2 linked regions of the Homo sapiens genome follow. The protein of the gene in region 1 interacts with the protein of each later gene in a pairwise test. Each region holds a gene or a part of one and is shown on either strand. Other genes may lie near its edges.

The links.
Region 2: the proteins of DNASE1L1 (region 1) and PECAM1 interact in binary tests that used the Homo sapiens proteins (3 or more experiments, as listed by UniProt).

Annotation. Positions count from the first base shown.
Region 1 is NC_000023.11:154,406,388-154,410,963, forward strand, and holds the start of DNASE1L1 (deoxyribonuclease-1-like 1 precursor), read right to left. Parts: upstream 2,868-4,576; 5' UTR 2,725-2,867; exon of another isoform or gene 2,171-2,724; intron 1-2,170.
Region 2 is NC_000017.11:64,380,556-64,384,363, forward strand, and holds part of PECAM1 (platelet endothelial cell adhesion molecule precursor), read right to left. Parts: intron 1-3,808. UniProt on the Homo sapiens protein: Cell adhesion molecule which is required for leukocyte transendothelial migration (TEM) under most inflammatory conditions.

The sequences.
Region 1 (4,576 bases):
AGACGGAGTTTCGCTCTTGCTGCCCGGGCTGGAGTGCAATGGTGCGATCTCGGCTTACTGCAACCTCTGCCTCCCAGGTTCAAGCGATTCTCCTGCCTCAGCCTCCCAAATAGCTGGGACTACAGGCACGCTCCACCACGCCCAGCTAATTTTGTATTTTTAGTAGAGATGGGGTTTCTTCATGTTGGTCAGGCTGGTCTCGAACTCCTGACCTCAGGTGAACTGCCCACCTTGGCCTCCCAAAGTGCTGGGATTACAGGTGTGAGCCACCGTGTCCTTTTTTTTTTTTTTTTTTTTTTTTAAATAGAGACAAGGTCTCACTATGTTGCCCAGGCTGGTCTTGAACTCCTGGGCTCAAGCAATTCTCCTGCCTCAGCCTGCTAAAGTGCTGGGATTGCAGGAATGAGCCCTGGTGCCCCAGCCTCATGCATCTCTTGACCTCGTGATCTGCCCGCCTCGGCCTCTCAAAGTGCTGGGATTACAGGCGTGAGCCAGAGCGCCCAGCCCCTGCTTTCAGTTCTTTTGGGTATATACCCAGAAGTGGAATTGCTGGATCATATGGTAGTTCTAGTTTTAATTTTCTGAGGAAGTGTCATATTGGTCTCCATGGTGACTGCACCATTTTACGTTCTCGCCAACAGTGCACAAGCGGTCAAGCTTATTCTTTTATTGTTTATTTATTTGGGACAAAGTCTTGCTCTGTCGCCCAGACTGGAGTGCAATGGTGCCATCACAGCTCACTGCAGCCTCCTGAATTCTATGTTTCCCAGGCTGGTCTCAAACTGCTGGACTCAAGTGATCTTCCTACCTCAGCCTCCCAAAGTGCTGGGATTTTTTTTTTTTTTTTTTTTTTTTTTTTTTTTTTTTTTGAGACAGAGTCTCACTCTGTCGCCCAGACTGGAGAGCAGTGGCGTGATCTCGGCTTACTGCAACCTCAGCCTCCTGGGTTCAAGCAACTCCCTGCCTCAGCCTCCCGAGTAGCTGGGATTACAGGCACCCACCACCACGCCCAGCTAATTTTTATATTTTTTAGTAGAGACAGGGTTTCACCATCTTGGCCAGGATGGTCTCGAACTCCTGACTTCAGGTGATCAGCCGGCCTTGGCCTCCCAAAGTGCTGGGATTACAGGTGTGAGCCACTGCGCCCAGCCAGTGCTGGGATATTATAGGCCTGACCCACTGCGCCTGGCCTAGTCTACCTTTTTTTTTTTTTTTTTTTTTTTTTTTGAGATGGAGTCTTGCTCTGTCACCAGGCTGGAGTGCAGTGGCGTGATCTTGGCTCACTGCAACCTCTGCCTTCCGGGTTCAAGTGATTCTCCTGCCTCAGCCTCCTGAGTAGTTGGGGCTACAGGCGTGAGCCACCGCGCCCGGCCCCCCCCCTTTTTTTTTTTTTTTTTTTTGATAGTCTCATTCTGTTGCTCAGGCTGGAGGGCAGTAATGTGATCTCAGCTCACTGCAACCTCCACCTTCCAGGCTCAAGTGATGCTCTCACCTCAGCCTTCCGAGTAGATGGGACTACAGGTGCATGCTGCCACACCAAGCTAATTTTTTTTTTCTTTTTTTGAGATGGAGTCTCACTCTGTCTCCCAGGCTGGAGTGCAGTGGCTTGATCTCAGTTCACTGCAACCTCCGTCTCCCAGGCTCAAGAGATTATCCTGCCTCAGCCTCCCAAGTAGCTAGGATTACAGGCACGTGCCACCACACCCGGCTAATTTTTGTACTTTTAGTAGAGACAGGGTTTCACCATGTTGGCCAGGCTGGTCTCAAACTCCTGACCTCAAGTAATCCTCCCACCTCAGCCTCCCAAAGTGCTGGAATTACAGGTGTGAGCCACCGCGCCCGGCTACCAAGCTAATTTTTAAAATTTGTTTGGAGAGATGGGGTTTCACCATGTTGTTCCAAGACCCCAGTGCTTTTCGCCTCCATTAGCAACTACAGGAACATCTTCGTTCATCTCTGTCTCCCCACTTGTGAGATGTTCTCTTTAAGATAAACTCCCGGCAGTGAAGGGTGTGTGCATTTTAAAAGGTCTCAGATATGGCCAAATCATCCCCATTGCAACCTGTGATGGGGACTCTTTCCCATGCCCCTGCCACCACTGGGGAGCCCTTCTTGTTCATCTCACCAGCTGGAGCCCCCCTCTCTCAGTTTATCTTTGTCTCACACTCACCTGACCTTGCAGGGCTCGGCTCCTTGCTCCACGCCCTGTCCATGTGGCTTTTGCATCCTGAGGCATGAGTTCCTCTGCTCTGTCTGCCTGCTTTTCTCTATCAACCTGTCACCTTCCCTTCGGGCTCACTTCCTACCTCTCTGAGGCTCTGTCCGTCTCTGTCTCACTTTCCCTCTCGTCTCTGGTTTCCCTTCTCTGTCTCTCTGTTGCGGTGTCTCTCTCCTGGCTGGGTTTGATGTCTGTTTCTCCCTGACCACCTGCTCTGTCACTCATGCTAGTTTGGGTTCCCTACCCTGGTGCCTATTCTGGGATATACATGGGTATGTGGGCAGCCCTGGGCTGGCACATGCAGCCTTGGAGGCTCTGGCGTCAGGGACCCCCATGAGGGCTACCAGTAAGAACCAGAGAGAGCGACGGTTCCTGGCTTCAGCCCCAAACCCTGGCTGTCAATATCAGCCTTGGTGGGAGCCCTAGGCTTCCCTCTCCCTCTCAAACCCTCCCCAGGCAGAAGGCAACTTCCTCCCTTCTTCCGTCTCCCCAGGGGGCTCCCATACCTGCTCAGACCAGCTTGTCACCAAGTCTGCCTCATCCTTAAGTGGATCGCGATACCCCAGAAGAGCAGCTCCTGCCTGAATAGGGCTAGGAGGGGAAAAAAAAGAGGAAGAGGCTGTGTTCCTGAGCCACCCGGCCAGGAAGGGCCTGGCTGGGCCGGACGCCCCACCCTTGCCAACAGGCAGGCCCGCCCCGTCTCCGCCTCGCCGCCAACAAGGAGGACCAGCACCAGGCCTGGGAACTGCTGACCTGCCCGCCCACCTTCCCACCCAGACCCCGCCTTCCCGGGCCAGCGGGACATGACAGACCTGTGAGTCACTCAAGCCTGGGGCAAGGAGGGGCTGGTGCCTGAGTGAGACCCCGAGCTTCGCTCGCCAGGCCCGTCGCTCAGCTCCCGGTCTGGGTCCCCAGTCAGCAGTTGCTGGGGAAGGCGCAGGAGCTGGAAGTCATGCCTGATGCCACGAGACCGGGCACCCCAAGGGCGTGAGTCTTCTGTCCCTGTTGTTGGGTTCTGAGTCCCAGTGTGGCTGCACACTTCTGAGTTAGGGGTGTTTGATGCAAGCGCTCTGGAGACCCAAAGAGAGGGACAGTCCACACATGATCTGGCCACAGTCGTGAAGTCAAGGGAGGACTGAGGATCTGCCCCAGAGAGGAGGAGACCCAGGGAGCTGGCAGTCCAACGTCCTGGGGGTCCTGCAGTAATGCTGTTGGGACAAATGAGGTGCTCGGACAGGGTCTGTGAGCAGGAGGTGGGGCTGAATCCACTCAGCTTCTCATGGGATGGCTGTAGCTAATGGATTCGACGTGGTAATAGAAGGCTGGACAAATTTTAAAAAATCAATAAATTATGGGCTGGGCGTGGTGGCTCATGCCTGTAATCCCAGCACTTTGGGAGGCTGAGGCGGGTGGATACGAGGTCAGGCGTTCAAGACCAGCCTGGCCAACATAATGAAACCCGTTTCTACTAAAAATACAAAAAATTAGCCCGGCGTGGTGGTGGGCGCCTGTAATCCCAGCTACTCAGGAGGCTGAGGCAGGAGAATTGCTTGAGCCTGGAAGGCGGAGCTTGCAGTGAGCCGAGATCACACCACTGCACTCGCACTCCAGCCCGGGCGACAGTGCGAGACTCCATCTCAAAAAAAAAAATCAATAAATTATGGTTTAAAAATAAAAAACAGGCCAGGTAGGATGACTCACACTTTGGGAGGAGAGGCAGACAGATCACCTGAGGCCGGGAGTTCGAGACCAGCTTGACCAACATGAAGAAACCCAGCCTCTACTAAAAATACAAAAATTAGCCAGGTGTGGTGGCTTGCGCCTGTAATCCCAGCTACTCAGGAGGCTGAGACAGAAGAATCGCTTGAACCTGGGAGGCAGAGGTTGCAATGAGCTGAGATCTCGTCACTGCACTCCAGCCTGGGCAACAGAGCAAGACTCTGTCTCAAAAATAAAAATAAATAAAAATAAAAATAAAAAACTGCCGGGTGCGGTGGCCCATGCCTGTAATCCTAGCACTTTGGGAGGCTGAGGTGGGTGGACTGCCTGAGCTCAGGAGTTCGAGACCAACCTGGGCAACATGGTGAAACCCCATCTCTACTAAAATACAAAAAAAAAAAAAAATTAGCCGGGCGTGGCGACCTGCGCCTGTAGTCCCAGCTACTCAGGAGGCTGAGGCAGGAGAATAGCTTGAACCCGGGAGGCGGAGGTTGCAGTGAGCCGAGATTGTGCCACTGCACTCCAGTCTGGCGACAGAGCGAGACTCCTAAAAAAATAATAATAAATAAATAAATATAAAATAAAAATAAAAAACTGGCTGCTTAATGCATAGGGGGCTTTCTTTCCGGGTCATGAATA
Region 2 (3,808 bases), on another chromosome or scaffold:
ATCTCCATGAAGTATGAATAATGCAATCATGGAATTTTTTAAAATTTTTGAGTGAATGGAGCAGTCCAATGTTTAAAACTCTCAAAGACAGATGACATGATATGTAAAAACCTCAAAGAGTCTGCAGACAAATTATTAGAAATAAATGTGAGTTTAGAAAGGTGGCTGGATAAGGCCAGGAATGGCAGCTCACACCTGTAATCCCAGCACTGTGGGAGGCCAGGAGTTCGAGATCAGCCTGGCTAACATGGTGAAACCCCGTCTCTACCAAAAATACAAAAATTAGCCAGGCATTGTGGCATGCACCTGTAATCCCAGCTACTTGGGAGGCTGAGGCAGGGGAATCACTTGAACCTGGGAGGCACAGGTTGCAGTAAGTTGAGATCACAACACTGCACTGGGCGACAGAATAAGACTCTGTCTGCAAAAACACAAACAAACAAACGAAAAAGAAAGGTGGCTGGATATAAGATTAATATTTTACAAGTCAGCATAGTGGTCATCTCTGGAGGGAGGGGCTATGGGGTAGGGAGAAGCACAGATGCAAGCTATTAAATGGTCTTTTGGGATGTTGGTCTGGGATGTTGATGAGATATTGTCCCTAATTTCACAAAGTGTTCCAACAGCACCAGGAAACACTGTGTTTATGCTGAACAACTGATTCATTTCTATCTTGTGGATTCTGAGAATGTTCTAATGGACCTTGTTCCTCTTTTTGCTTTGATTGTTAACACACAGCAAAAATTTCACCTCTGCTTCTAGCAATCTTTGGGATGCGTTTGTGCTAAATGGGCCATAGCTTTATTTCCCTGCCTTTATTTTTCTCTCATCCTGATTTCCTCATTAATTGTATCTCATTGAACAATACATAATTTTTATAAGTGGTCCCAAGTCATTTTTTTGGAATAAGAAAAAAGTTAGTTAGCTAGCTGGCCAGAGATACTGGCAGAACCTGTCCTTTCCCTCTCTTTTAACAAAGTTAGGCCTTTGTTGGGTAATTTAAAATTTAATCTTCAATTTTAAAACGAGTACTACAATTTGCGCCTGCTGCTATATTCTGAGCAATTAATTTAACAACAACAACGACAACAAAAATGGTGTCTGACCAGTCCATGAGATGAAACAAGGTGACGGTTTAAATTCAAGTCATTTCCCACAGCATTACTCTTTGGAACTCCCTTTTTTGTCTTTATATGCAACTTACAAGCTCCTGATTTAAGAAGCCTGCTGGATGAGCTCTCGACACACAACTTTCTTTGGACCAGCCGGGCACGGTGGTTTATGCCTGTAATCCCAGCACTTTGGGAGGCCGAGGCGGGTGGATCACTTGAGGTCAGGAGTTCAAGACCAGCCTGGCCAACATGGTGAAACCTCATCTCTACTAAAAATACAAAATTAGCCGGGTGTGGTGGTGGGCGCCTGTAATCCCAGCTACTTGGGAGACTGAGGCAGGAGAACTGCTTGAACCTGGGAGGCAGAGGTTGCAGTGAGCCAAGGTCATGCCATTGCACTCCAGCCTGGGAAATAAGAGCAAAACTCCATCTCAAAAAAACCTTTTTTTCCTTTGGACCATATTAATTTCTCTGCACTCCTCAATTAATATAGTTCCCTCCCAACCACTCTCTTCCCTCTCAGAGACAGTTAGGTCTCCTTCCATTACCTCTTCAGTACTTCCTCCTTCATTTTAAGCTATGCTGTGTATTCCAGTGACTCAACCAGGAGATACTAAAGAGCAGAAATCAAGTGCACGGAGCCAGACCTGGGCCAAATCTCATCTCTGCTACTAACAAAGCTGTGTGACCTTTGGCAAGTCCCTAAATTTCTCTGAGCCTCAGTTTGCTTATCCATACAATAGGCACAAGGAATGTAAGTATAAATGAGAACCTGAGTTTAATTACTTAAAGTAGAGTTCCTGGCACCTATAAAGTGCTTGAGAAATGTTAGCTAGATTCTTCCAGTTACAGAAATAAAGTCGACTCTTTTTTTATTTTTTAATTTTAATTTTTTAGAGATGGGGTCTTACTATGTTGTCCAGGCTATTCTTAAACGCCTGGCCTCAAGCAATCATCCCGCCTCAGCCTCCCCAAGTGCTGGGATTACAGGCATGAGCTGAAAATCAACTATTCAGAGCTTTAAAGCTGTGTCTCCACTACATGTTTCTAGGGATTTTTTTTTTTTTCAAATAAAAACCATATTTAAGGCTGGGCGTGGTGGCTCATGCCTGTAATCCCAGAACTTTGGGAGGCTGAGCTGGGCAGATCACTTGAGGTCAGGAGTTCGAGACCAGCCTCCTGGCTAACATGGTGAAACCCCATCTCTATTAAAGATACAAAAACTAGCCAGGCGTGGTGGCAGTTGCCTGTAATCCCATCTACTCGGGAGGCTGAGGCAGAAGAATCACTTGAACCTGGGAGGTGGATATTGCAGTGAGCCGAGATTGCACCACTGCACTCCAGCCTGGGCAACAAAGATAGACTCCATCTCAAAAAAAATAAACAAAATAAAAAGCATATTAAACATTTTCAGGTTAATTTAAAGCGACTTCTCCAGCCTCCCAGTTTTGCTCACTCCACTGCGTGCTCTCCACACGAGTCATTCATCTGCTCTCCTGTTTACTGAACGAGCTGCCCATCCCTGGCTGGTTATGCCCTAGACCAGCAGACAGTGCTGGGTACAGAAGGGAGTCAGACATACCAGATTCAAACCCGTGATCCCACAGTGCTTAGCTGGGTGATCTCGGGAGTTATTTAACCTCTCTGGGCCACCACGTCTCTGCCTACGAAGTAGGAACATGAATACCTGCCTTCTCTGGTATCTTTAACCTAAACAGTGACTGCGCCAAAGTGGCTGAGGGCACAGAAGGGGCCGTGTATATATTGCCCAGTGCCTGGCCTCTGGTTGACATTCTCTGCCTTCTTCCTTAGCACCATTCATAGCAAACATTTAAGGGGGTTTTTCTGTGCCAAGCACTGTCCCCCATACTGGGGGTTCAGAGAACAGTGAGGCTGGCAGTGTCTGCCCTTGGAGAGCTCATTCTGCACTCCACAACTCTTCCTACTCTGGGCCTTCCAGCCTCAGCACAACCCTTGCGTGAGCCTCCCACTAACCAGTCCTAGTTCATTTGATTTTTATAAAAGCCCTCCCTTTTTAAAAAACAATTTTAAAGCAAATTTGGCTAATGCACCAAGCAGTGGTTTTTCCAGTAGGGATGGTACCCACTAGCATGGGGCCCGTCCACCATCTTGTTTTTCTAAGCAACTCTAACACACATTATCTGCTCAAATAAACAAACTCGGCAGGGTGTGGCGGCTCACACCTGTAATCCCAGCTCTTTGGGAGGCCTAGGTCGGTGGATCACCTGAGGTCAAGAGTTCGAGACCCGCTGGCCAACATGGTGAAACCTAGCCTTTACTAAAAATACAAAAATTAGCCGGGCATGGTAGCGGGCACTTGTCATCCCAGCTACTCAGGAGGCTGAGGCAGGAGAATCACTTGAATCCAGGAGGTAGAGGTTGCAGTGAGCCAAGATCACATCATTGCACTCCAGCCTGAGCAATAGAGCAAAAACTCCATCTCAGAAAATAAATAAATTAACAATAAACGAACTCAATGGATGCACTGGCAGGAACACCACATTCCCATGGCTAGCTCGAACAGACAAGGGAGAAGAGAGGGCAGGATGGAAAAAAGAAAAGCATTTTATAAACTCTGTTGAGATATGAGTCTCAGCTCTTCATCTTAACACAAATATCATCGACAAAACAACAAAAACAGTGACCTAGTTTTTACCGCCACAACCACCACCACC